Homo sapiens: one gene and its partners. The protein of the gene in region 2 interacts with the protein of the main gene of each other region in a pairwise test. Each region holds a gene or a part of one and is shown on either strand. Other genes may lie near its edges. The genes, in order: CHCHD3, CEP72, ATXN7 and MCM10.

Region 1 (7,033 bases), on a different chromosome or scaffold from region 2:
GGCAGAACATTATTCAGCCATTAAAAACTACATTTCAGAAAAATGTTCAGTGACATAGGAAAATGTTCATGAGGCTTAACACCATCTATAGCATTATCTAAATGTTTCAATATGTTAAAAAGCCTAGAAAAAAATAATCTCGAGGAAAACACACACTGGTGTAAACCATGGTTATATCAGAAAGACAGATTGATGGGTGTCTTTTAAACCTTCTTCTGTCTGTTAGTAATACTTTTAAAGACAACAACAAAAACATGTCTATGTAATCTTTTAAAAGATTAAAAAATATTTTCTTTTTAAAAAAATTATCTTAGAAAAGACTGTTCCCCAAGGCCCTGGCTCTACATTTTCTCTTCCCTAAACCCCAGGCAGTGATTGATCAAACCTTACTCACCTTTGCCAGAGTCTTCCAGACTAACATCTGGTAGTTGCCAGCCACGAGAGAAAGAAGCCTACATTGCTGACCCCTGAGGTTTCAAAGACAATAAAACCAAAGGCAAAGGACAAAAAAAGAAGACAGGCCGGGCTCGGTGGCTCACACCTGTAATCCCAGCAGTTTGGGAAGCCGAGGCGGGTGGATCACATGGTCAGGAGTTCAAGACCAGCCTGGCCAAGATAGTGAAACCCCGTCTCTACTATAAATACAAAAATTAGCTGGGCACGATGGCAGGTGCCTATAATCTCAGCTACTCGGGAGGCTGAGGCTGGAGAATCACTTGAACCCCGGAGGCGGAGGTTGCAGTGAGCTGAGATCGCACCACTGCACTCTAGCCTAGGCGACAGAGCAAGACTCCGTCTCAAAAAAAAAAAGGAAAGAAAAAGAAAAAAAAGCAGACAACAATCCTTCAGGTGTGAAACATGTACACATGTCTGCATGTTGGTCTTCAATACTTCCAGAGTTACCTGCCTTTAAAGTCCTTGATGGTTAAACCTAAACTGTAAGCTACTTATAAAAGGCAAAAATCAAAATCTGAGCAAAGAGAACATGAATAATATTATCAACACTAAAAGCTGGCACAGAGTACTTAGCTCTTCCCAAACATCAGAGATTTCCTTGTAGGCAAGAAAATTTCTCCTACATTTTTAATACTCACCAGGTGCTTTGCCTTAGCGCGTTCCTCCTCGCTACATATCCTCTCCCGAAGGATGGCTCTGGTTAACTGCTCATTGGCAGCAGCCCTCTCTCGGTCCAGCTCTTTGGCTTGCTTTAGTCTAAAATGACAAGAATTGTCTAAGTTAGAAAAAATATTTTATTAGTTGACATTATTTTCTATCAAATGAAATAATTTAAAAATAGAAACACATAGCCAAAAAGGTCAACAGCTGAAATCATCTTGGCCCATAATCTATCAAAAAAGCAGGTATAGAGGTAAATCCCCATGCAGCCTCCACTCAAGCATTTCAAATAACCAAATTCAAATACATGAAGAAGCTTATTAATTTGGCTGCCAAATATAACTAAGTTTTACAAAGTTCTTCTTATGTAAAATTAAAATCTGCCCACCAAAAAAATTCCATCCCTGGTGCTTCCATTTGGCCTCTGAAAATTTAAGTAATTAACAAACCATCTAGGCCAGGCGTGGTGGCAGCTCACACCTGTAATCCCAGCACTTTGGGAGACCAAGGCAAGTGGACCACTTGAGGTCAGGAGTTCAAGACCAGCCTGGCCAACATGGTGAAACCCCGTCTCTACTAAAAATACAAAACTTCGCTGGGCGTGGTGATACATTCCTGTAATCCCAGCTACCTGGGAGGCTGAGGCAGGAGAACTGCTTGAGCCTGGGAGGTAGAGGACGCAGTGAGCTGAGATCATGCCACTGCATTCTAGCCTGGGCGAATGAGACTCCGTTTAAAAAAAAAAAAAAAAGCCATCTACATGACAAATATTTGAAGGTAACCATCGTCTCTTTCTCCAAACTTACTCAACTCGTCCATTTACTGAATGCACACCAGGCACTGTGCTAGGCATTGAGGACACAGCGATAAACAAGATGGACAGGTCACTGTCATTGTGGATGTTACAGCACAGCAGAGAAGCCAGACATTATGGAACTAATAAGGACATCTTTCCTCCCAGTATATTACCCCTATTTTCCAACAATCCTCATATGCAAATATGACCACGCCTTTCAACTGCAGGGCTCCTCACTTCTGGAATGACTCCAATCGATCTGTTAGCTCCAAACTAAACCTAACCCTCCAGACATGCTCTAGCAAACTAAGACAGGAGAATCTTACTTCCCTAGATCTGTACACAATACTAATTCTATTAATGAAGCATAAGATTGCATTAGATTTCTCAGTAGCCTCATCACACAATTAGATCATATTAAGTTACAACCCACTAAAACCCCTCATTGTACATGATAAAGATAAATTACTTTGGCACTGATTTTTGCCATAGTGCCTGGCACATAGAGGCATTCAGTAATCACTGAATCACTGAAGATTTCAGTCTAATCTCATGAACAAAGATTTTCTGACTGCCTTTTCTTCTTTGAGAGAATAACCCTACTATACCATCATATCCCTGAAGGTATAGCTATGCTTTAAAAAGGAAAAGTAAAATTGTTATGTTGGTGTAAGTGAAATTCTGAGTGAAATCTACTTTATACGTGTGAATGATGAGCACCAAATTCTACTCAGTACTAGCTTATCAAATTTTAGTTTTAAAAAGATTTTTGAAAAAAACTAGAGATAAAATTTTGTGTTACTATTTTTAAATTGCTACATCATCCTGATACTCTGGAATTCTCAGAAATCAACTACAACAGAAAAAAAAAAGTCACCTTGTGAGATATATTCCAAAGTTATCATCCTTTTCCCCTAAAAATCAAAGCTGTGTAGTTTTGTGTCTTAAATAAAAAAAAAGAGGACTAGAAACAAGTTAAAATCTGTATTTCGAAATTCTCTAATGCAAAAGTAACCTTTGGGAAACTTCCTAAGCAATAAGCACAATGACACTCATACAAACCAAATTTCTCTAAATTATTTCACAAGGACCATACAATAAATTCAGCAACATCAATGATATCAACACATTAACACCACTGGATATGTGTAATTGTAAGAGAACAGCAATAATTAGAAGTCACACCACTTCCTAGAACAGCAGTTCTAAAACTACAGTCCACAAACCAGCTGCAGTAGCATCAGCTGGGAGTCTGTTAGAAATGCAGCTTCTCTGATTCCATCCCACACTTGCTGAATCAGAAACTCTAGGGATAGTGCCTAGCAAACTGTCTTTTCATAAGCCCTCTAGAATTCTGATGCATGCTAAAGTTTAAGACTACAGCCCTTAATTACCAAAATACACTTGTACTCAAATAAATCCTGGAGGTAAATGAAAGTAACATCAAAAATGAAGTGCTCCCCATGAGAATATTGTGCAAATAACTGCTGAGGTTATCATATCAGATTACAATACTGTATTTAACGCATTTGTATGGACATCTTACCCCTAAGTAAAAAAGCATTACCTATTTTTACCAGTGAGGTGGAAACTAAAATAAAATAATAAAATTACTATCATTTATGGATCAACTACTAAGCACTGTGCTAGGCACTTTACAAACATATATAAAATGTTTATTCAAATTCTATTATTAGTTCATGAACATAAAATGAATTCTGTTCAACTGAATTATCACATCTACCACATTTGGTGTATCTAATTTTAAAGTACTGTTTAAAAATTACTACTTTTTTTTTCCATTTTAGTTTACTTATGTATGGCTTAGATTTTAATTACATATGGAGTTCTACATGGTTCAACTTTAAGAAATACAGGATCATAAGGATTTTGGCAAGTTAATGAAAAAGAAGCAAAACATGAGCACAAAAGCCTTCAATGTGATAATAAAAATAAACATATTTAGCTTGCCATGACTGGTACAGATATGCAAACTCTGGGTCCAAATCAAGGCTCTAAACTTCCTATCTGAATAAGTACTTTATTTAATCTCCGGTGAGTCCTGTTATTCTCATGGGTAAAATGAAATAGTGTAATACCTACCTTACAGCGTTCTATATAAACAAGGCACTCAGCACAATGCCCATAACATAATATACACTCAATAAATGTTAGGTAAGTAGCAGTAATAATAATAGTACCCACTATGCGGGTAGGAATACAGAGAAAGCAGTGATTTTACGAAATGAAGAAGACAATCTCCAAATTCACTAACTACAATGCCATCTCCATCATCTTTTCCAATTTTTCACCAATAAATTCTGCTTTATTTTTATGATCTCTAAGGACTTCTAAAATCACAAATTGACTCTACTAACTCCAGCAGCTAGACCCTTTCACAAGCTGCTTCCTTTCCCTCTTGTCCATAGCTCCATAAGGACAACGATTTGCCCTATTTTTGTTCACTGCTATATCCCCCATACTTATAAAAGTGCCTGCCACATATCAAACACGCAAGAAAAAGTTGTTGATGTATGCATGTGTGAATGAATGAATGAATAAATAAATAAATGGCATATTTCTAACCACAAACAAAACAAGGAAAACAAACTGCAAAAGAACACAAGGCGATGGTATATAAGAAACAACTAACGAGACAAACTGTATCCTCCAAGGGCTTAGCCACCATGTTAGATGTGGCACATCTGTGATATAATCCCAGGCTACATTAAATAGCCTACAACAGGAGGTGCCACAACAGTCCAGAGCCCCTCCAACATCAACACCTAACTATATTTGACACCTGGATTGAAAGAGGATTGGCAGTGGTGCAAACTGACTAAAAAGAATATTATTTTCCTTTCTTAATAAATTCTTATACTTTCATTCATCCTTACAAATAGAACTGCACAAATTCTCAAATGTTTTTAAAGGAATGTTTATAAATTTTAAAAAAACTTTTTTTAAGGTCTGTATGGTGACTGTTTAAGAAACCAAATTTTTTGTCATCAGGGAGTTTGGCAGTAGGACTCTGAACAAATTCTCATTTCCTATCAACAACTTAGCTGTACAATCTAATAAGCCTCAGTTTCCTCAGTTTTAAAATTTGAAGGTTGAACTACTATATAATCTTATGGTCCTTTGCATATAAACATTCTAAAAAGTCTATACCTTAAACATATTATTCCTCATTCCATAAAAAATCTTGAAAAAGGTGGTGGCAGGGGATAAATAAAACAGAGGGGCATTATATTATCTCCCAGCTTGATACTGTTATAATTTCTACTCGATGGGCACATATACTTCTACTGTAATCCTGAGATTTCTCACTACAGTACTCAACAAAAACTACACACTGGAATTCATAAATTTATTCAGTATATAATTACTAGGTGAAAGGGACTACTCTGGTTACTGAGAATGAAGTAGTGAGCAAGAGACACAGTCCCTACTTTCATGAGCCATGATTACAAATAACAGATGCATTATTTTTAAAAAGTTAGGTAGGTATCTATGACACTGCATGGGTGGGACTGATATTTAACTTGAGCTCTACAGGACATTAACTGAGCAACATGGGGAAGGAGAAAGTGTCTTAGGCAGAGGAAACATCAGTTGGGTCCAGAAGCACCAAGAAAGGATTTCCTTCAGTTAGATTCCTGTGACACTTAGAAGGGTCTCTGAGGCATGAAATCACCTCTGCAAAGAATTTTACTTGCTTTCAGATTCTCTTGGAGGACAGAGTTTCAATGGTATACTGACTGAGGTTCAGTTTTGACCAGTGCCCAAAGATGAGAAGCTTCTAAGTTGTACCATTTCCCATTTAAAAGCAATAGATTTGAAACTTCAAAATTGTACCATTCTCCATTTCCCCAACCCTCCCCTCCAAAATATTGCATGGCAATTATTTTCTTCTAAGTTTCCTCTTTCAATGGTTCCTGTAAATTCTTTACTGAGCCAAAACCACTTTGCAAAGAAAAACTGCTTATGTTTTCAGAAACCCCCAATTACTTTCAAAGCTTCCTCTCTGGCCCCTTGGTTTTATACCGCATGGAGCTATACTATTCAACAGCCATCTGCAAAAGGTAGATGAGCTGTCAACCAATTTTTCTCTTTTTGAACCAAATAAGACAGCCCTGCCATCTGGGCCTCTCTGAAAACTACTGCCCAGATAGTGGAGCTATAAAATCAGAAGCCATGTTGTTTTGGGAACACTTCACTAAGGAGAGAAGACCCAGGCTCTCACTGACCAAGGGAAGGCAGGACTTTATATGTAAAGGCAGGAGATAAAATAAGTCTCTCATTATTAACTTGGGTTTCCAAAGATTTAAGAATTATCTCAAAACAAAACTAAACATGCCAAGTATCTTAGAGAATACATTCCTTTTTTATTTATTGGCATTTCCCACTTAATATTTTAGATCTCCTGCTCTAATATATTCTACATTAAGTCCCTGATTTAAGTTTCATTTAAATTTCTTTCTTTTAAATACATATCTCTCCTCATTTAAATTCTCTAGAGTTTCAAGCAAAGAAGTAGGAGTTTAGTGTAAACTTTTCTTGTTTGCATTAAGTAATTGGATAGCTTGCCTAAGCTTAATGAAACAAATACCAGTCAGTGCTGCCCTTAGACCTCAAGCCCTAGCAACTTAGCTCTTTCCTCAGTATATTGTCAATCAGGCGAGGGACTTAAGGTACACCAGCAAAATGAATTCCTAAAAGCCAGCCAAATCTCCTATAATAAATATTATTACATGTCCTTTTAAATGGGAAAACAAATTAACTACTTATAAAACATTCAACTTTCATGGACAGCAGGTATAAAATCTAGTTCTCTATATTTTAGTCCCAGGGTAAAAACTAGCCAGTTTGACTTTACTCTAAAGAACCTCAAGTTTTTAAGAAAGTAGAAAGAGAATTTTAAAGATAACTTTAGCAAGGCATTAACATATTGAACTTCATTCACCTCCATAAGGGAGGCATTACTAGCTCTAGTTTTTTTGTTTTTTGTTTTTTTGAAACATGGTCTTGCTCTCTTGCCCAGGCTGGAGTGCAGTGGCATGATCTCGGCTCACTGCAACCTCTGCCTCCCAGGCTCAAGCAATCCTCTTGCCTTAGCCT
Region 2 (7,136 bases):
GGCCAACATGGTGAAACCCCGTCTCTACTAAAAATACAAAAATTAGGCAGGCGTGATGGCAGGCGCCTGTAATCCCAGCTACTCGGGAAGCTGAAGCAGAGGAATCATGTGAACCCGGGAGGCAGAGGTTGCAGTGACCCAAGATCGTGCCACTGCACTCCAGCCTGGGGGACAAGAAGGAAACTCTGTCTCAAAAAAAAAAAAAAAAAAGAGGAAGACTACATATACTAAAAGGGTCAGTCCACTAAGAAGGTATAAAAATCCTAGCTATGTAATTCAACAAACAGAGCTTCAAAACATACAAAGTGAAAAAAAAAACAGACAAATCCACAATTACAGTTAAGGGTTCCAGACCCCTCTCTCAGTCATTAATAGAGTCACTAGACAGAAAATCAGCAAGGATACAGAAGAACTGAACAATATCACCAACCAACAGGATCTAATTGATATTTATGTATTTACATAACACTCCACTCAACAACAGAATACACACACACTCAAGTGCACCTGGAACATTCAACAACATAGACCAGATGCTGGATCATAAAACAAACCCTGACAAATTTAAAAGAATTAAAATCATACAGATTATGTTCTGGCCATAATGGAATCACACAGAAAAATAACAGGAAAATATCCACACATGGAACGTTAAAAACATACTCCTTAAAAATCCACAGGTCAGGCCGGGCGCGGTGGATCATGCCTGTAATCCCAGCACTTTGGGAGGCCGAGGTGGGCGGATCATGAGGTCAGGAGTTCCAGCTACTCGGGAGGCTGAGGCAGGAGAATGGCATGAACCCAGGAGGCAGAGCTTTCAATGAGCCAAGATTGCGTCACTGCACTCCAGCCTGGGTGACAGAGCGAGACTCCACCTCAAAAAAAAAAAAAAAAAAAAAATTCACAGGTCAAACAGGAAGTATCGAGGGAAATTCTTAAAATACGCTGAACTGGATGAAAATTAAAATACAACATAACAAAATTTGTGGATACAGCTAAAGCAGTGCTTACAGGGAAACTTGTGGCACTGTTTATAATAGAAAATAGGAAAGTCTCAAATCAATAATCTACAGTTTTGCCTCAAGGATTTAGAAAAGTATAAAATAAATGCAAAGCAAGCAGAAAGAAGGAAATAAAAAAAAGCAGAAATCAATGAAATTTGAAACTAGAAAAACACTGGAGAAAAATCAAACCCAAAGTCGGTTCTTTGAAACTATCAATAACATTCACAAGCCTCTAGCAAGACTAAAAAAGAAAGAATACACAGATTATCAACATCAGGAACAGAAAAGGGATATCCCTGTAAACCTTGTAGCACTAATCAGGGAAGAAGGGAGGACTCGGCATGTCCCGAGGTCAGCTGCCCTCTCACCTGCTTCCTCAGAGCCCTGTGGTGCCTACTGCCTCAGGATCACTTGGATTTTGTCACGAGGTTACAGTTCCCCTTAACCACTCTACAGATAATAACCTGGACATTATAAACCGTTAAGTTTTCCATTTGAGATATTCTTTCAGGACCTGGGGACTGATGCCAGCTGGTCTAAAGGGCCCCGCAAGCGGATTCACCAAAGAATGCAGTTTCCACACCCTGATAATTCCATGGCCCTTACCTCCACCAACTGACAACACCAATCTTCCAGCTCCTCACAGTCCTGTTCCTCTAAAACCCCCAGCTCAGGCTGGGTGTAGGTGGCTCATGCCTGTAATCCCAGCACTTTGGGAGGCCAAGGCAGGTGGATCACCTGAGATCAGGAGTTCAAGACCAGCCTGGCCAACATGGTGAAACCCCGTCTCTACTAAAAATATAAAAAATTAGCCGGGCATGGTGGCGCGTGCTTGTAATCCCAGCTACTCAGGAGGCTGAGTGAATCACTTGAACCTGGGAGGTGGAGGTTGCAGTGAGCTGAGATTGTGCCACTGCACTCCAACCTGGACGACAGAGTGAGACTCCGTCTAAAAAAAAAAAACCGCTCAGATCTCCTTGGGGAGATGGATTGAGGCCTCCTTCCACCTCCCTGCTGGGCCCCTGCCAGCCTTAAACTCTTTCTCTGCTGCAAACCCCACTGTCTCAGTGTATTGGCCTGTGGCCCCCACAGCACCTGACTGAACCTGTTGGTCCAGTAACACCTGCAGACCACACACAGACATTAACAGGCTAACAACAGAACACCAGAAACAACTCAACACACACACTCCACAAGTTAGCTCAAATAAGCCAATGCCACAAAACCCCACACAGCCAAGACTCGCGGTGAACTAATATGAACGGTTCTCTAACAACCAGAGATACAGAATTTGTCATTTAAAAGCTTCAAAAACAGAAATTGACATGTCCATATGGTTTCACTGGAAAATTCCAGGAAACATTCAAACAATGAGCACACACTCTACAGAACCTCTTCTAAATATAAGAGAAGGCAACACTTCTCAGCAGTTTATGAGCTCGGCTTCACCTTGACGCCAAAACCAGACAAAAATAAGCCAAAAAGAAGGAAACCGGCCACCAACATCCTCAAGAAGGCCGAGCGCAACAATCACCACAGAGTGGGCCCAGGAGAACCAGGGAGGTGATCCCCAGCGGGAGGGCGGGCTGCGCTCCTGGACAGCAAGGCCGGCTCCCTCTTCTCAGCGGATGTAACCCCCAGTCACGGAACCAGTGACCCGATAGACAGGCAGGGGCCGGGACGCCGGGACCCGAACGCGGGCAGGGGCCGCACCTGGGCACGGGGGGTGGGTCGCTCACCTGGACACGCGCGCCCCGCTCGCCCGCGACCGTTCCGGACGCCCGCGGCGCCTGCGTAGACGGGTCCCGCCTGCCCACGGTCCGCCGCCGCCCCGGGAAGCTCGGCACCCACCCCCCCGCCACCTCACGCTTGCACCCCCGCCCGCCCTCCGGCGCACCCAGGTCGCGGTGAGGCCCTAAGCCGCTCTTCGCCCGAACCGCCTCCTCGCTCAGCACCAGCCGAGGGCCAGCCCGCGCCATGTTTCAAACGGAGCCCTCGGACGGCGCCTGCGCGGCGGGCGGGGCGAGGCTACGAGAGGGGCGGGACCTGCGTCGGCAGAACCGAGAGCCTGGCGGGACGGGGCGGGGCCTGCGCGGCGGGGCGAGGGGCGTGGCTGGGGGAGGGGGCGGGACTGCGTGGGCGGAACCAAGAGCCTGGCGGGGGGTTCTCCTGAATGGCGGTTCTCCCAGGTACTGGCCACGCGACCCCAGCCCCCGCCCCAGATAGCTCCCTGTCAAGGCTTCCCTGGGCGCGGCCGCCTTCTAGGCCCCGGCCCTTGACACACGCGGTGTCCTCCCGGGGAAACCCCGAGTAGGCGCGGTGGAATCGCGGCTGGTGGTGGGCATGGGGACCCTGCCCCATCCACACTCCGCTCCCACCCTGAACCCAGCGCCCCCGGGGACCCCCGACTCACCTAGACTCCCCACCCAACCCGACCCCCCCGCGGGGACCCCTCCAGACACCCCAGCACCCGCCCGGAGCCTTGTCTGCTGCACCTCCCGTCCAGCCCCGGGCCTCCCAGAGGTGGGCGGGAGCTGAGCTTCTCCCCAGCCAGTCACTCCCCACGGCCGGTCCTTCTCCACCCCAGAACCTCCAGAGATGTCACAGGCCCAGCACTGTGGCTCGTGGCTGACCGCGCCCTGGAGGGTCTCGCTGTGTTTATCCTTGTGAGGTCCTTCTACAGAGCTTTCAAGGAAGACAGAGTTCAGCCTGTTTATTGGGAAGACTTTAATCCTGCTCAAGACATCTACTGTGTCACCGTACCACTGTGGCCCAGCGCCTGGTGGAGTGAATCCAGACCCCCAGGGGTGTCCCCTCCCCGCCTTTCTCCTGGTGTCTAGGGGCACCCAGAAACCCTCACCCCAGATTAGACCAGCTCGTTGGCAACATCCCTGGTATGTCACAGCCTGGGGGGTGATAGACAAGGCAGGGTAGTGGTGGGGGGTACGTATGGTGGTAGTAGACGAGGGTATACACAGACAGAGGGTGTACATGGGGAATGTGTGCAGGGGCTGTGTGCAGGGAGTGTGTGTGGATGGTGTAGGGGAGTGTGTAGGGGAGTGTGTAGGGGGTGTGTGCAGAGGTTGTACACGGGGTGTGCAGGAGGTGTACTCAGAATGTGTTCAGGGAGTGTGTGCAGAAGGTGTACATGGGGTGTATGCAGGAGGAGTGTGCAGAGGGTGTACATGTAGGGGGTGTGTGCAGACAGTATACAGAAGGGGTGTGTGCAGAGGATGCACACAGGGTCTCTGCAGGGAGTATGTGCAGTGCTGTACATAAGGAGTATGCAGGGGGTATATACAGGGTGTATGTGCAAGGGGTGTGTGCAACAGTGTGTGCAGGAGGTGTGTGCAGGGTCTATGTGTGGGGGTGTGTGCAACAGTGTGTGCAGGAGGTGTGTGCAGGAGGTGTGTGCAGGAGCTATGTGTGGGGGTGTGTGCAACAGTATGTGCAGAGGTGTGTGTAGGGGCTATGTGTGGGGGTGTGTGCAACAGTGTGTGCAGGAGGTGTGTGCAGGAGGTGTGTGCAACAGTGTGCAGGGGGTGTACACAAGGTGTGTGCAGGAGGTGTGTGTAGATGTGTGTGCAGGAGGTATACACAGGGTTTGTGCAGAGGATGTGTGTGGGAGGTGTGTGCAGGGGATCTGTGCAGGGAGTGTACACAGGCTGTGTGCAGAGGCTATGTGCAGGGGGTGTGTGCAACAGTGTGCAGGGAGTGTACACAAGGTGTGTGCAGGAGGTGTGTGCAGAGGTGTGTGCAGGAGGTATACATGGTGTGTGAAGGTATGTGTAGAGGTGTGTGCAGGGGGTATACACAGGGTTTGTGCAGAGGATGTGTGAGGGAGTTGTGTGCAGGGGATCTGTGCAGGGAGTGTACACAGGCTGTGTGCAGGGGGTATGTGCAACAGTGTGCAGGGGGGGTGTGTGCAGAGGTGTGTGCAGGGGGTGTACACAGAGGGTGGTGGCAGGCGGTGGATGCAAGGCTGCATCTGTTCAGCCCAAGACGTTCCATTGGTCCAGTGGTGTTAGAGCACATTTGGTCAGGTTGCCTTCATGGGATATTTGACAAGCTGCAAACCCGAGGGCATGCTGGTGCCCGAGGGCGCCTCCGTGCTGACCTCAGCATGTGCAGCAAGAGCCAGGGCACAGGGGCGGCCTGGCCCATTTCAGGCAGGTGCTCTGTGGGAGGGTGGCTGTCTCCACTGACAACCCAGGGAGGTCAGCAAGGAGGAGCCCTGAGGTGGACTCGAAAGCTGTGGGAGCTGATGGCCCTCCTGGTCTCTGCCACAGCCCTTAGGCTGTGGGACACACAGCGTCACATTTGATCACTGTTCATGGGGCCTGCCGAACACTCAGCATTCCTGAGTGCAGATCGTCACGTAACTTTCCAAAAATTGCAAACCCAGATATGGCTCCATGACCCCTCCTGCAAGACTGTGAAGGAGTTCAGGGCACAGCTGAGCCCTCACACCCCCAGCCCCATCACTGCCCCTGATATGCACTGAGTGGAATTCTGTCCCGCCAGGAGACAAACAGTGGACAGCATCCTGGCTCTTCAGAAGCACATGACGATGGCAAACTGAAGGCCTCATGGGCCCTCACCCAACAGCAGTGGCTTTTCAGGGCATAACACAGGCCCCAAACACTGAGCCTCTTCCTCCTGGGCAGGTACCCAGCTGGCCAGACAGGGCAGGGTAGGGGCGAGTGGGACCTCAGTGGGCAGCCGGTCCAGGACAGAACCACACGGGGATGTGATGGAAGTACCAATGGGAACTTTGAAAACAATGCCTCTGCTCACCAAAGTATCCCAGCTTCACTGTAGAAAATATAGACACTACAGAAGGGCACCGAGATTCGATATGCCGCCCTGCTGAGATAACCCACACTAACATGCCCACATGTATCCTGCAGGTGTTTTTCAAGCCTGTGCGTATTGACAGTCATGAGGCTATGCTAAGCATTGCCGGATGCATCTGCCACTAAGTAGTCTTTAACGTTGTTTATTAAACACTTTTAATGGTCACGTTAGATCATAAACCAAACCCAACTTTATTATCCTGTCTTCTGCTGCTGAAAGTTGTGTCTGTCTCCACTTCCTCACGGTGCTCACTCTGGTTGGCCAAATCATGAAGATCCATGGAGGCGCGGGAGCCTTCCGGCCTGGAATGGGGCAGCAAAAGCACAGAGCCGCAGAGAAGCCGGGAAAGCAAAGGCAGGGGCTGCTGGGCTGGGCCCCATCAGCCCCATGGCAGCGGCACCCGCACAGGCCTGGGGTCCCCAGCAGCAGGGATGCTGTCTGTGGGCCCAGGGCTCCTCCACAGCTTTGGGGGCTTCCTGCCAGAGGAGGGGGGTGGTTCTCCTGGGAGGGGCCCCAAGACAGGAGTCCCCAGACCTGGGCACGCCTCACCTCGGGTAGGGCCCCAACGCTTCAGCGGGTCTCACTGGCATCCCTAAACCTAGACCACAGGAGAGTGTGCTGTGCCATCATCACGATGACCCCTCCCCATCCCAGCGCACGCTCCCACGACGCACCGTGCTCACAGTGACCCCTCCCCATCCCAGCGCACGCTCCCACAATGTGCCGGGATCACAGTGACCCCATGGGCTACCTGCCGCTCCCAAGGACTAATGGAGGCCTCTGTCCCCAGGTTCTATCCCGGGTTCCTCACAGGGCACCAGCCCTCAGGCCCAGTTAAATTCCGGAGCGGCTCTTTAAGCCCACAGGCCCAGGCCGCTATGGTAGGACCCAGGTGGGAGAGGCTCTCCGTGTGCTGTCTCCCTGACAGGTGCCCCATCCATAGCTTTCTAGAACATCCCAGGGAGGCTCCCAGGCCCCGAGCCTCAATCCTCAAGCCTGTGGGTCCCAGACTGCAGGCTCAGTGAGCCCTACAGAGACCAGGCCAGCGGAAGGAAACAGGGAGACCCACATGGTCAGAGAAGAGGGCTGGAGGTTCAGCCTGAGGGGCCTCTGGGCTTTCTCTAAACAGAGCGGGGGTGGGAGGAGGCTGTGATGTACAGTGAGGGGACTTGAGAGGGAAATGGGGGCCTCCACCCACCCCAGGGACGAGCGCTCACCCCAGGCCCACCTGGCTCGCAGCATCCAAGCCAGGGCTACGCAGAGCAGCTGCTCCCA
Region 3 (7,033 bases), on a different chromosome or scaffold from region 2:
CCAGGTTTGGTGGCACACACCTGTATCCCCGGCTTCTTGAGAAGCTGCAGTGGGAGGACTGCTTGAGGCCAGGAGGTCAACGCTGCAGTAAGCCACGATTGTGCCACTGCGCTCCAGCCTAGGTGACAGAAGGACAGCTTGTTTCAAACACAAAACAAAACAAAACCCTTAGATGTAGGGTTGGGAAGGAGACGGGTGAACCAGGGATCATTATGGTGTCGCTTATATGTGATACAATGTCTAAACCAAGTCCACTCATAGTGGCCCACAAATGTTCAGATAGTAAATATCTGTTGGTTTTACCTGCCCTCCATCAATTCCCACTTCTGGGGAATGACAACTCCCCTAAAGGGTACTGGCTGAGTGAGGCAATAACCAAGGCACCTGCTGGGACCCAGTATGGGCCTGAAAGATATACTCTCAGTAGAAAGTGGGATTAAAAACTGCTGGAGAGGTTGGCCCTCCTGTATCCTGAGAAGACTGTCTACTGAGTCCTGCTACCTGGATCCCTGAAGCTGCTCTAGATCTGGTTCACTCTGAAGCCTGATTCTTTGGCATTGTTGTCACCACATCCCTCCAGTAATCTCTTTATGTTTAAAGTAGTCAGATTTAGTTCTTACTGCTTACAACCAAAGATCTCTGGCTGATTAGCTGTTATACTGTGTCTAGAAGAATTGCATTTTCTTAAAAATTGGGGGGATAAAATTTAATTTGATTGGCAAGTAATTAAACCATGAATTTCACATTGAAAAGGGATATATTATAGAGTAGAATACAAAATTCATGTAAAATTTTAAGATAATGGATTTTGAGATTTTAAAAACTACGCTTCCTCCCACTTCCCACCCTTCCTCTCTCCCTCCCCCATGCAAGTTCTTTAGTGATGGGATTAAGAAACACTGGTATAGACATAAATTTTCCTTAACTTTTAAGATCTGTCCCTAACTAGATAAAAGCTCTAGGGCAGGTTACTTAACCTTTCTAAGGCTCACTTTTCATACCTTTAAAATGGGATAATACTACCTACATGTAGAGCTGTTATCCCAAGAGGTAACACAGGAAACCATTTAGCACTGTTCCTCAGAACAGAGTTTTATCAATCATGGCAAACAAACAGAGTTTAGTTACTATAACAAAAGCAGGTTGGCACATATGTTGATGGCTGCAACAATTCCCTGTAGGCTATCCTGTGCAATATGACTTGGCAGCATTTGCCATCAAGAGGGGGTATCTTTGTCCAACTCCTAAAATTTGAGTTGGCCTTGTGACTTGCTTTGACTAGCAGAATATGGCAGAGTGGTACTGTGTGACTCTTAAGCTTAAGCCTCCAGAAACCTTGCAGTTCTCACCCTCCTGGAACAAAGTGCCTCCACCTGAGGAAATTTGATCTAGGCTGCTAGAAGATGAGATTATGTGGAGCTCAGAGAGATAGCCCAGCTTGACTAACTAGTTCTGACTCAAGACTTAAGAGGACTGCAGCCACATTAGTGACCTCAGGCCAGGCACTACCAATGGAGAACTGCTCTGCCCTAATTATGAGCAAATAAAATGGTATGTGTTTTAAGCCACAAACTTTTGGAATGGGTTGTTAACAATAGATAACTGACAGACATGCTTCATGAATTATCGTAATATTTCTATATTTTATAGTGTATTCACGTCCTAAAGTTTCCTATAACAAACTCTAAGGCCCAAAGTCCACAAAGAGTCACTATGTCACAGCCAGATGTGGTTACGTTTCTCATTCGTCAAGGCTAGATCAATGTTGCTAATTTCATATAAACAATGAACTGTATCTCCACCAGAATGTGGGGCATAGGAGATAGAACATACTCCAAAGCCAAAATAACTGAAGTGAAAATTTGCTAAAATTATCATAGTTAAACCACAAAGATGCAGGTGCAAATAAAGGTGAGTTGAATTTGAAGGTAACTGGCTAAGGAAAAAAAAGGAACAATTTAATTGATAATTAAAGCATTAAATTATAATCTGTTTTTTTTTTAAATTTAAAAACAAACCAGATTATAATAATGTTTAATAATCAAAATTATAGTTTTAGATTATAATTTAATAATTAAAACAGATTCTCCCCTGTAACAATTCTTGCTCCTGGCATTTTCTTCCATATACTTCAAAGATGACTAAAACCCTATTCTAAAAGTTCCATCTTATACATAGTCTCATTATATACCTTTTTTTCTATGAATAAATATTGACTGCATCATTCTTTTTAAAGATTGCAGCATATTCCACTACATGGATAGGCCCTAATTCACTTAATCCCCTATCCATAGGTATTTAGATCACTTTCTATGTTTTGTTATAAAAAAAGGACAGGTGAGCAATCTGGTACATACATCTGTGCATACTTCACCAACTGTTTCTTTAAATTCCTAGATGTGAATTTACCTTTTTTTCTTTTTTTGTAATGACTTTGGGTTCATATTGCCCAAACTGTTATCCAAAAGATACGTAGCAAATTTACTTTTTTTAACAAGAAGGAAACCCTTAAATGCTAAAAGTAAGAACACATTTTACACCTCTAATATCTATATATAAAATGGCAAACAATTTTTTAAATTGCATTCTATATCTAAAATACTGAGTCATGCCTCTTATACTGTATTTACTGTACATTTGGAGGGGGAAAAATCCTACAATACCCAAATAATCTCTAGTGGTTTTATTTTCAGCACAATGTTGTTTTGAAAAGGTAAACTCCAAAAAGAGTGTACTTGCTGCAAAATAAGCAAATCAGTAGAGAATGTTGAAAAGCAGGAAACGAAGCAAAAAATAAACCAATCAGTTAGAGCAGTTATCAGGTCACCAAATCTGCATCCTTACACAATGGCCAGGAGAGAAAGGTAGAGGGAGTGAAAAGGTGAAACTAAAAGAAGCAGCCCTCAGAGCTTCAGTGATGGCCGGATGAAATTACACACAGACATATATATCTACATGCTCTGTACACACCAATCCTAGAGCTAATCTCCAGGGGTTAGAACACAAGAGGAATTTTTGTGTGCTTTATAAAGCCAAACATATCATGCAGAAAGGGAATAGGGAAGGCCAGGATACAGATTTCCTTTAGGAAAGAATGTCTAGTTAGCAGCTTGAGAGGCCAGTATTAATTACTTCCCTTCCACGGCAAAGAAGGATTAATAGGAACATTAAGCAAAAGACAGCTCCAAAAGCACTGATTCCCTTCAAAAACCATCACATCTGAGAGGGTCCAATCATCAAGCTCTATAAAAAAATGGGCAAGGTGAGAACACTTAACAATAAATAAAATTAATTGGTGACAGAATCATGCATGTGCTAAGGCGGCCACACAATATGACTAATAAAAACTTATTGACTGAAGTTTCATCCTATCCAAAGAGATGAGGCATTAGATCAAACTGCCATACCAAAAGCAGAGTATGCTAAATAAAACAGCAGTGTGTGAGCACACACACACATACGTGTGTGTGCACATGTTGGGGGTGGTTGCTTGGCAATGCCACAAATCTATGCATCTAATATTCTAGGCAAGGATTCTGCAAATTATGGCCCATGGACCAAATCTAGCTAAGATTTGTATATAACAGGAGCTAAGAATGACTTTCACATTTTTAAATGGTTGAAAAAATAAAATATGACGTGACACATAAAAATTGCATGAAATTCAAATGTCAGTGTTCATCAACATTTCTTGGAACACAGTCATACCCATTCATTTATATCTATGAGTGTTTTCCTGCTATCATGGCAGAGCTGAGTAGGTGTAGAGACCTGGATGGCTGGCAAAGTAAACAATATTTACTATATGGTCCTTTACAGAAAATTTGCTGATCTCTGTTCCAGGCTATAAAATCACACAGTTGTTTGATGGATCACAGCTCCAAACCTGTGCAGGCTTGTTGGTTTGGCCCCTGACATATCCAAGATTTTGATATAACCTGCCAGGCCAATAGAGAATGCAACCCCATTGGCTAAGAACAATGGAGAAGTCCAATAGGTCATCAAGATGTTGGGATACCTGCCTATCATAACAAGAAAATGTAAAAGGCTTTTCTGAGTTGAAAGTAAGATGGTTCCAGAAGGTCTAAGTGGGAATAAGGATGAATAAAGGTATTCTCTTTAAAAGGATGTATAGTATCTCTAGCAGGGTGCGGTAGCTCACAGCTGTAATCCCAGCACTTTGGGAGGCCGAGGCAGGTGGATCACCTGAGGTCAGGAGCTCAGGATCAGCCTGGCCAGCATGGCGAAACCCCATCTCTACTAAAAATACAAAAATGAGCTGGGCGTAGTGGCACATGCCTGTAATCCCAGCTACTAGGGAGGCTGAGGCACGAGAATAGCTTGAACCCTGGGAGGCAGGAGTTGCAGTGAGCCAAGATCATGCCACTGCACTCCAGCCTTGGCAACAATGAGCCTCTGTCTCAAAAAAAAACAAAAAGAAAAGAAAAGAAAAAGATGTATGATATCTCCTTCTAAAGATGAGAATGTAACTGTCTTCAAAATGGCTACCACTTTCTGAGTACTTACTAGGAGCCTAGGAGTAAGCAAAACTTTTTTGCATTTATTATCCCATTTAATGGTCATCTCCTCTAGACTCAAAGAAGGAGACTGGACCAAGTTGAACACAACCAGAGAGCTCAGGAAATGAGAATCAAGGCCATATTCAAAGCCTAAAGGCTGTGTTCATAACCATTTCCCAACCCAAGGGCAGAAAGCATAAATGATCACCACGAATAAATGACAGGAAAGGTTAAGACTATAGAAATAGTAGAAGCAAGTTTATTTTTATGGCCATAAGCATTATACAGTATTTTATTTACGTATCTCACACTTTCTTTTGACTCATAATGCCCTCTCTTACTTCAGCATTTAAAGTAAAATATGATTCAGTCCTGCCAGACCCTTTCCTATTGACAAAAATCAACACAGGTACCCAACTGTGAAGGCATTTTAAAGACAGCAGAATTAGACAACTAAAGTTATAAGTGTAACTTCCACCCATGAAGTCCCTGGGTTACCTGTGAAGGTCTCAAAACGAAAGGAGTGCTGAAGCACTTTTAGGGGTGATGGACTATAAAGTACATGTGCAGTATTTTAGTTTTTTAATTCAGATTATAAGTGAAGAGAAAATGTTAAATGGAATCTTGCCCACAGAGAGAAATATAATGCTGGTGGGTGGCTATCATTTCTTCCTGCCCAGCAGCATCCATGTCCTCCCCTCTGCCAAATAAACCATCATTTTCCACTTTCCTCTAAATATCTATATTTGGGGACCACTCAATCCTAACTCATTTTTGAAAATCTTTTTCTTAAAAAACAATGTTTTAAGTGTTAATATCTTCATCACACCAATTTGGAAATAATGTACTTATTATCCTATACCATGAATATACATGTTTCCTCAGATGTTTATTAATGGTTCCCCAAACCTGGCTTGTAAGTCCTTCTTGCGGGCCAAAGAGGAGCTAAGACTTTTATACGGGAAACTTCTAGCTAGCCTCCCAACAACTCTACTAGTTAGCCATATCCAGATGAGTAACTGAAGAGTCAAGCAGGGTAAGTAGCTACAGTGAATAAAGGAAACCAAATTTGAATTTTAAGTCTATTTTGACTCAAACTGTGTTTTTCCCATCATGTTCTACTGTCCTGCCAAGGCACAAACACATTTTCTTACAATGATTCCCTTTGAGTCAAATTTCAAATTTTCTGGAGAGAAGAGAGTGGAGCTGAAAGACCCATTTACTCCAACGGCTGGTGTCAAGATCAAATCTTTGCTTATCTACCATCAAACGATCTGGTCTGAATTTTTAGATATAATTTTTTAAAAACACAGCCACAGTACATGCAGGACTAGCACGTCAGACCAGCTTGGCTTATCAACTGATAGGCAATGCTTTGTTGTGGGAATAAAATGGAAGTGCTTTTACACCTCTAAGTCTGAAGACAACTTTATTTATTTATTTGTTTGTTATTTATTTATTTATTTCAGTGTCTTACTCTGTTGCCCAGGCTAGAGTGTAGTGATCTCGGCTCACTGCAACCTCAGCCTCCTGGGTTCAAGTGATTCTCCTGCCTCAGCCTCCTGAGTAGCTGGGATTACAGGCCACACCACCACGCCTAGATAATTTTTTTTGTATTTTTGGTAGAGATGGGGTTTCACCATGTTGGCCAGGCTGCTCTTGAATTTCTGACCTCAAATGATCCACCCGCCTCGGCCTACCTCAAATGATCCACCCGCCTTGGCCTCTCAAAGTGCTGGGATTACAGGCATAAGCCACTGTGCCCAGCCTGAAGATAACTTTAAAAGGCAAGTAACGAGCACACAGATCTACTTTTCAAAAATGTTTTTTTCTCTTTAGAATGGTCATTCTGTGATGGCTCATGACTGTAATCCCAGCACTCTGGGAGGCTGTGGCAGGAGGATCACTTGAGCCCAGGAGGTCAAGGATGCAGTGAGCCAGTTTCATGCAATTGCATTCCAGACTGGGCAACAAAGTGAGACCCTGTTTCAAAAGAAAAAGGAAAAAAGAAGAAAGAAAAGAAAAGAATTCTAACTTCCATTTTATTCAATAAAAAGATGTGTCTCTAATTTTTTTAAGTCCTGGATCTCTTTTCTAAAACAACTACAGACCCTCTTCCAGAAAAATACACATACACAAAAAGTTCTGGTCACAACTACAGGGAGTTCAGGAATCCCTTGAAACCAACCCTTGGAGGGTCACAGACCCCCAGGATAACTCTTGCTCTAAAAGCATAGTACAAAATTCCTTACATTATTTCACAGACCCAGAATAAAGACCATATATAGCTAGCTCTCTCATAATTTTTTATATTTTCAGAAAGCAAATATCAAATAAACACACAAATTTTCTTAACTAGTCTTTCATATTCTCAAAAAAAAAAAAACCCAGAAATCTTATGACTCAAATAAATCAATAAATATAAGGTCATACAAGTTCAAAGTCTGAATCAGTTTTCTTAAAATCTGCTACTTCCATTTCTGTGTTTCTGCCCATAAAGATCTGTCTTGAAA
Region 4 (5,086 bases), on a different chromosome or scaffold from region 2:
CCTACGCTACCAATGACAGGTTAAGAAAAATAAAACACATATGTTGGATTTGCATGAAAGCATTTCATAAAGGTTGATAAGGAAGGTAGGATTAGGCTGGGCACAGTGGCTCATGCCTGTAATCCCAGCACTTTGGGAGGCTGAGGCAGGTGGATCACTTGAGGCCAGGAGTTTGAGACCAGCCTGGGCAACATGGTGAAACCCCTTCTCTACTAAAAATACAAAAATTAGCCAGGCACGGTGGCGCCCACCTGTAATCCCAGCTGCTCGGGAGGCTGAAGTGGGAGGATTGCTTGAGCCCACGAGGTGGAGGTTGCAGTGAGCCAAGATTGCGCCACTGCACTCCAGCCTGGGTGACAGAGCAAGACTCTGTCTCAAAAAAATAAGTAAAATAAAATAACAAGTTTCCCTACCCCACCCCTACCGACCGCGTCTCATCCCCAAATATGCTAAGAAAGCACATGCACAGAGCACCTCAAAGCAAAGTCCCCCAAGATTGAGCAAAACTAAGAAGTGACAATTATGTTTTAAATTTATTTTAAAAGTTAAAATCAAATTGTAAAAAGGCATCCAGATACAGCTCACCCTCAGCCTTTACAAGCATATTATACAACTTATATAACAATATACACGTGAATACTGACTGCAATGATACCCTCTGTTCAAACAAGAACATTGTTTTTCCCATAAGAAAGGGATTGCTCAGACACCAACCTGGTGTTCAAGTTCTGTTGTGACCTATTTCATACACATAGCTGTTTTAAGTTAATGAGATAAATAAATCTACCCTAAATGAGCCATTAAAAACATCAGTTTCAAGTGCTTTCTGGTTCTTATTAATAAATACTTTATTCTTTTCTTTGTTAGAAAAAATTAAAAAGAAAAGCAACCTTCTATAAAGTAGAAGTATACTCCTAAAAGAATAGTTATTAGGACATAACCTTAGGAGGAACACAAGTTAGATACAGCACCTTCCACCCAATTAGAGCAGAATTTTATGAAATCTAAGGCATGTAAATTTTATTTCTAGCTTTTGAAAACCTAAATCAACCATCTCCCACAACAACCTCCCAAAAGTGTTATGTCCCTAACATAATAACATCTTAGGGGAAACCTAAATTACTTTTAGCTACAGCTCAAGCTTCAATACAATAATTCAACCAATTTACCCAATCTTTAGCTAGTATCAACATTCACTTAGGTCAAATGATATTTGGAAAACCAGGTTGCCCAGATGGAAGAATCTCCTGAATGAAACCTTTGCTGTGGTAATTTGCATAGGGGTTGACCTTTCATTTTTTTTTTTTTTTTGGAAACAGAGGTGGGTGGATTGCTAGTGCTCAGGAGTTTGAGACCAGCCTGAGCAACATGGCAAAACCCCATCTCTACAAAAAATGCAAAAATTAGCTGGGCTTGGTCACGCACGCCTGTAGTCCTAGCTATTTGGGAGACTGAGGTGGGAGGACTGCTTGAGCCCAGGGAAGCCAAGGCTGCAGTGTGCCGCGATCGCACTACTGCACTCCAGCCAGGGTGACATAGTGAGACCCTGTCATAAAAAATAAAAAAATTAAAAAAAAAATAATATGAGATTTTACATATTTCTATCACAGGGCTCCACAATAATGTAAGAGCAGACACCTTCTTTCTCTCTATATATATAAACTGAAATGCAAAGTGATTCAGTGGCTTGATCAATTTCAAAGAGTAAAACAGAGATAACAGAATTGAATGAAGAAATCTGGCTTTTAATGTCCGTACATCAAGACTATGTGATCATCATTATCTAGATGGGAAAGTTTTATTATTTGTAGAAATCCAGTGCTAAAAAATACATTTCAGGATCACTTAGTCCAATCTTCCTGATTTTACAGATGAGAAAACTGAAGCCCAGAAGTTAAGCTACTTACCTGGAGTGAGAATTAAGCCAAATTCTTTTGCCTCTGGGTGTTCGTATAAACACTAGAATTTTGTTATGATAAAGAAGTGAACACTCTATAACCAAAAGATACAGAAACATAGCTCTCTGTTTACCTTCCAATTTTTGGGCAAAAACTTCAGTGAATGAAGTAATGCAATCATCCACACTGAGCTTAGAAAAGACAATGATAACTTGGTTTTCCACTTAAATGTCAATGTTAAATGTGGTATCAAACCAACCCAATGGCAGAAAGTAAGCAGGCAAAGCTTATGGGCTTAACAAGCATTTGTTTTTGACGGCGTCAATCAGGAATCAATGGACAATACACAGCCAATCCTTTGCTTTCCAGAGTCACAGGAGGCCAGGAAGTCTGTGGGAAAATGTCTGAAGTTCGGGTTATTTAAGGCTGTTCAGAAATTTAGCATGTTCTTCTCCTCTTGGTAACAGAGTTTCTCCTCCTATCTTTGGACCAGTCTTTTCCTAGAAAAATGAAAATATTTTAATAGGAGATGGTTCCACATTATTAGCATGGGTCACTAAAAGGAGTCAAAAATTAGTACGCAAATGGCATACCTTTAGCATTCCGTCCCGTTCCCATTTGTAGAGGCCACAGTTACTGAAACAGAACAGATGGATTTACTCAGCAGGGTGGTGTAGGCCCACTCATGTAAAGACGACGGTGCTCACTGCACCTGGGGAGAGTAGGCCCCCATTCAAGGAGAAGCTGTTCAAGGTGACATTCGTATTGTATGCCAAATCTGAGGTTATGCTCAAATGCGACAAAAATAAACCTGCAATGACTTGGGAAGTGGTCTGTAGGTCCTTACAAAGCTAGAGGCTTCAGAGATGGAGCTTCAAATGATAATGATGGCACCACAGGGATCCACGCACTGCAGGTAATGAATGCACCCTTGGTTTTTACAAATGATGGTGGTTGGGATGAGACTCAGATTTAAGGAGCTGGCCCTCTGGTGCAGGATAATCTATGTTTGGCCCCTTCCTCCTCTTTTTTTTGGAGCAAAAAGGTTGAGCTAAGAAAGGAATAATCTTCTTTCTAGTCTGGATCATCCTTCTCCCTTTCTCTTTATAACCCAAAAGCCTTTACTCACTTTCTTTTCTTTTCCTTTTTTTTTTTTTTTTGGAGAGATGGGATTTTGCTATGTTGCCCACGCTGGCCTCAAACTCCTGGGCACAAGTGATCTGCCTGCCTCAGCCTCCCAAAGTGCTGGGATTACGGGCGTGAGCCACTGTGCCCAGCCTCTTTACTCTCTTTTTATTCAAAGGGCCCAGGGACTCTTGTTTTGTTTTTATTTTTTTTTAGAGACAGGGTTCACTCTGTGGCCCAGGCTGGAGTGCAGTAGTGCGATCACAGCTCACTGCAGCAGCCTTGATCTTCAGGGATCAAGTGATCCTCCTGCCTCAGCCTCTTGAGTAGCTGGGACCAAAGGTGTACACCACCATGCCCAGCTCATTTTTAAATTTCTGTAGAGATGGGGAGTCTCACTATGTTGCCCAGGCTGGTCTTGAACTCCTGGGCTCAAGTGTTCCATCTGCCTCAGCCTCCCAAACTGCTGGAATTACAGGCATGAGCCACCAAGTCCAGCCCTTCTTGCTCTAGTTTTTAAAATGGTGGGTGACTTCCACCCTGAGAAGGGATGTGAACACTATGGTGAAAACTTATTTCCTATGAAGTTTACTCTGGGAAAAAGAGAGAGAAAGAGAGAAGACATATAATAAAGCTAAGGAAGTATGTCTGCCTGCTTACTTGGATTTCAGAGGGTTGGGGTGGGGTGGGGATGCTCTGCCTGTCTCCCCTTCCCCTTACCTAGCTTAGAGTCTACTCGTTCTCATTAGTCTGTTCTCATGCTGCTAGTAAAGACATACCCAAGACTGGGTAATTTATAAAGGAAAGAAGTTTAATGGACTCAGTTCCACATGGCTGGGGAGGCCTCACAATCATGGTGGAAGACGAAGGAAGAGCAAAGGCATGTCTTACATGGCGGCAGGCAAGACAGTGTGTGCAGGGAACTCTCCTTTATAAAACCATCAGATCTCATGAGACTTATTTGTTTTCATGAGAACAGCCCGGGAAAGACCTGCCCCATGATTCAATTACCTCCCACTGAGTCCCTCTCTCAACTTGTGGGAATTATGGGAGCTACCATTCAAGATGAGATCTGGGTGGGGACACAGCCAAACCATATCACAATTTCTGCCCTGAAAGGTGGCACGCCAGTGGCCTTAGCCCTTACAACCTCCCAACCATCACCTTCCACCTCTAGAGACTGGTTCAGTATCAATGAAGAGAACTCTGGTAGCCTATATGTCGATCAATGATAAAATTGTGAGAAAAAAAAAATCACTATTCTAGTTAGGAGTCAGCAAACTACAACCCCAATCCAGCACATCACCAGTTTTTATAAATAAAGTTTTATTTGAACACAGCCGTGCCCAGTTGCCTGTGTATTATCTATGGTTGCTTTCAGGCTGCACCAGCAGAGCCGTGTGGTTGTGACAGATCATCTGGCCCACAAAGCCTAATATATTCACCACTGACATTTTACAGGCAATGTGTGCTGCCTTCTGTTCTAGATCAAGAACTAGCCAAGCATGGTGGCTCAGGCCTGCAATCCCAGCACTTTGGGCAGCTGAGCCCACTTGAGCCCAGGAGTTTGAAACCAGCCTGGACAACATAGTGAGACCTTGTCTCTATAAAAAAAAGTAAATTAAAAAAATTAGCTGGGTGTAGTGGTGCACACCTGTAGTCCCAGCTACTCAGGAGGCAGAAGCAGAAGGATCGCTTGAGCCCATGAGTTCAAGGCTGCAATGGGCTATGATCATGGCACTGCACTCCTGCCTGGATGACAGAGTGAGACCCTGTCTCAAAAAAAGAAGGAAAAAAAAAAAAGCAACTGACAAAAAGTCCAGAAAAAACATGGTTCTTACAATCACAGTGCCATCTGGAGGCTGAAAGGCATCATGCCCTTCCATTTGTGCCCTGTACTTAATAAACAGAATTTTTTTTAATTTTTCTAACGTTTTCCATAAGCTCTTGCTATAATGACATTTTTAGTCATCTAGTTTGGAAAAAAGTCAAGTATCAATATATAAATAACTACTTAAAAATTATAATCTAGATTGTGAAAAATTGGCAAGCCAGCTCCTGGT

Evidence for each region.
Region 1: the proteins of CEP72 (region 2) and CHCHD3 interact in binary tests that used the Homo sapiens proteins (3 or more experiments, as listed by UniProt).
Region 3: the proteins of CEP72 (region 2) and ATXN7 interact in a two-hybrid assay, tested with the Homo sapiens proteins (one study listed by BioGRID and IntAct).
Region 4: the proteins of CEP72 (region 2) and MCM10 interact in a two-hybrid assay, tested with the Homo sapiens proteins (2 studies listed by BioGRID and IntAct).

The regions. Positions count from the first base shown.
Region 1 is NC_000007.14:132,974,075-132,981,107, forward strand, and holds part of CHCHD3 (MICOS complex subunit MIC19), read right to left. Parts: intron 1,213-7,033; coding exon 1,095-1,212; intron 1-1,094. UniProt on the Homo sapiens protein: Component of the MICOS complex, a large protein complex of the mitochondrial inner membrane that plays crucial roles in the maintenance of crista junctions, inner membrane architecture, and formation of contact sites to the outer membrane.
Region 2 is NC_000005.10:608,209-615,344, reverse strand, and holds the start of CEP72 (centrosomal protein of 72 kDa), read right to left. Parts: upstream 3,006-7,136; 5' UTR 2,984-3,005; coding exon 2,902-2,983; exon of another isoform or gene 2,744-2,901; intron 793-2,743; exon of another isoform or gene 664-792; intron 1-663. UniProt on the Homo sapiens protein: Involved in the recruitment of key centrosomal proteins to the centrosome.
Region 3 is NC_000003.12:63,866,834-63,873,866, reverse strand, and holds part of ATXN7 (ataxin-7), read right to left. Parts: intron 7,027-7,033; exon of another isoform or gene 6,954-7,026; intron 1-6,953. UniProt on the Homo sapiens protein: Acts as a component of the SAGA (aka STAGA) transcription coactivator-HAT complex. Mediates the interaction of SAGA complex with the CRX and is involved in CRX-dependent gene activation.
Region 4 is NC_000010.11:13,206,539-13,211,624, reverse strand, and holds the end of MCM10 (protein MCM10 homolog), read right to left. Parts: intron 2,535-5,086; coding exon 2,492-2,534; intron 2,399-2,491; coding exon 2,315-2,398; 3' UTR 515-2,314; downstream 1-514. UniProt on the Homo sapiens protein: Acts as a replication initiation factor that brings together the MCM2-7 helicase and the DNA polymerase alpha/primase complex in order to initiate DNA replication. Additionally, plays a role in preventing DNA damage during replication.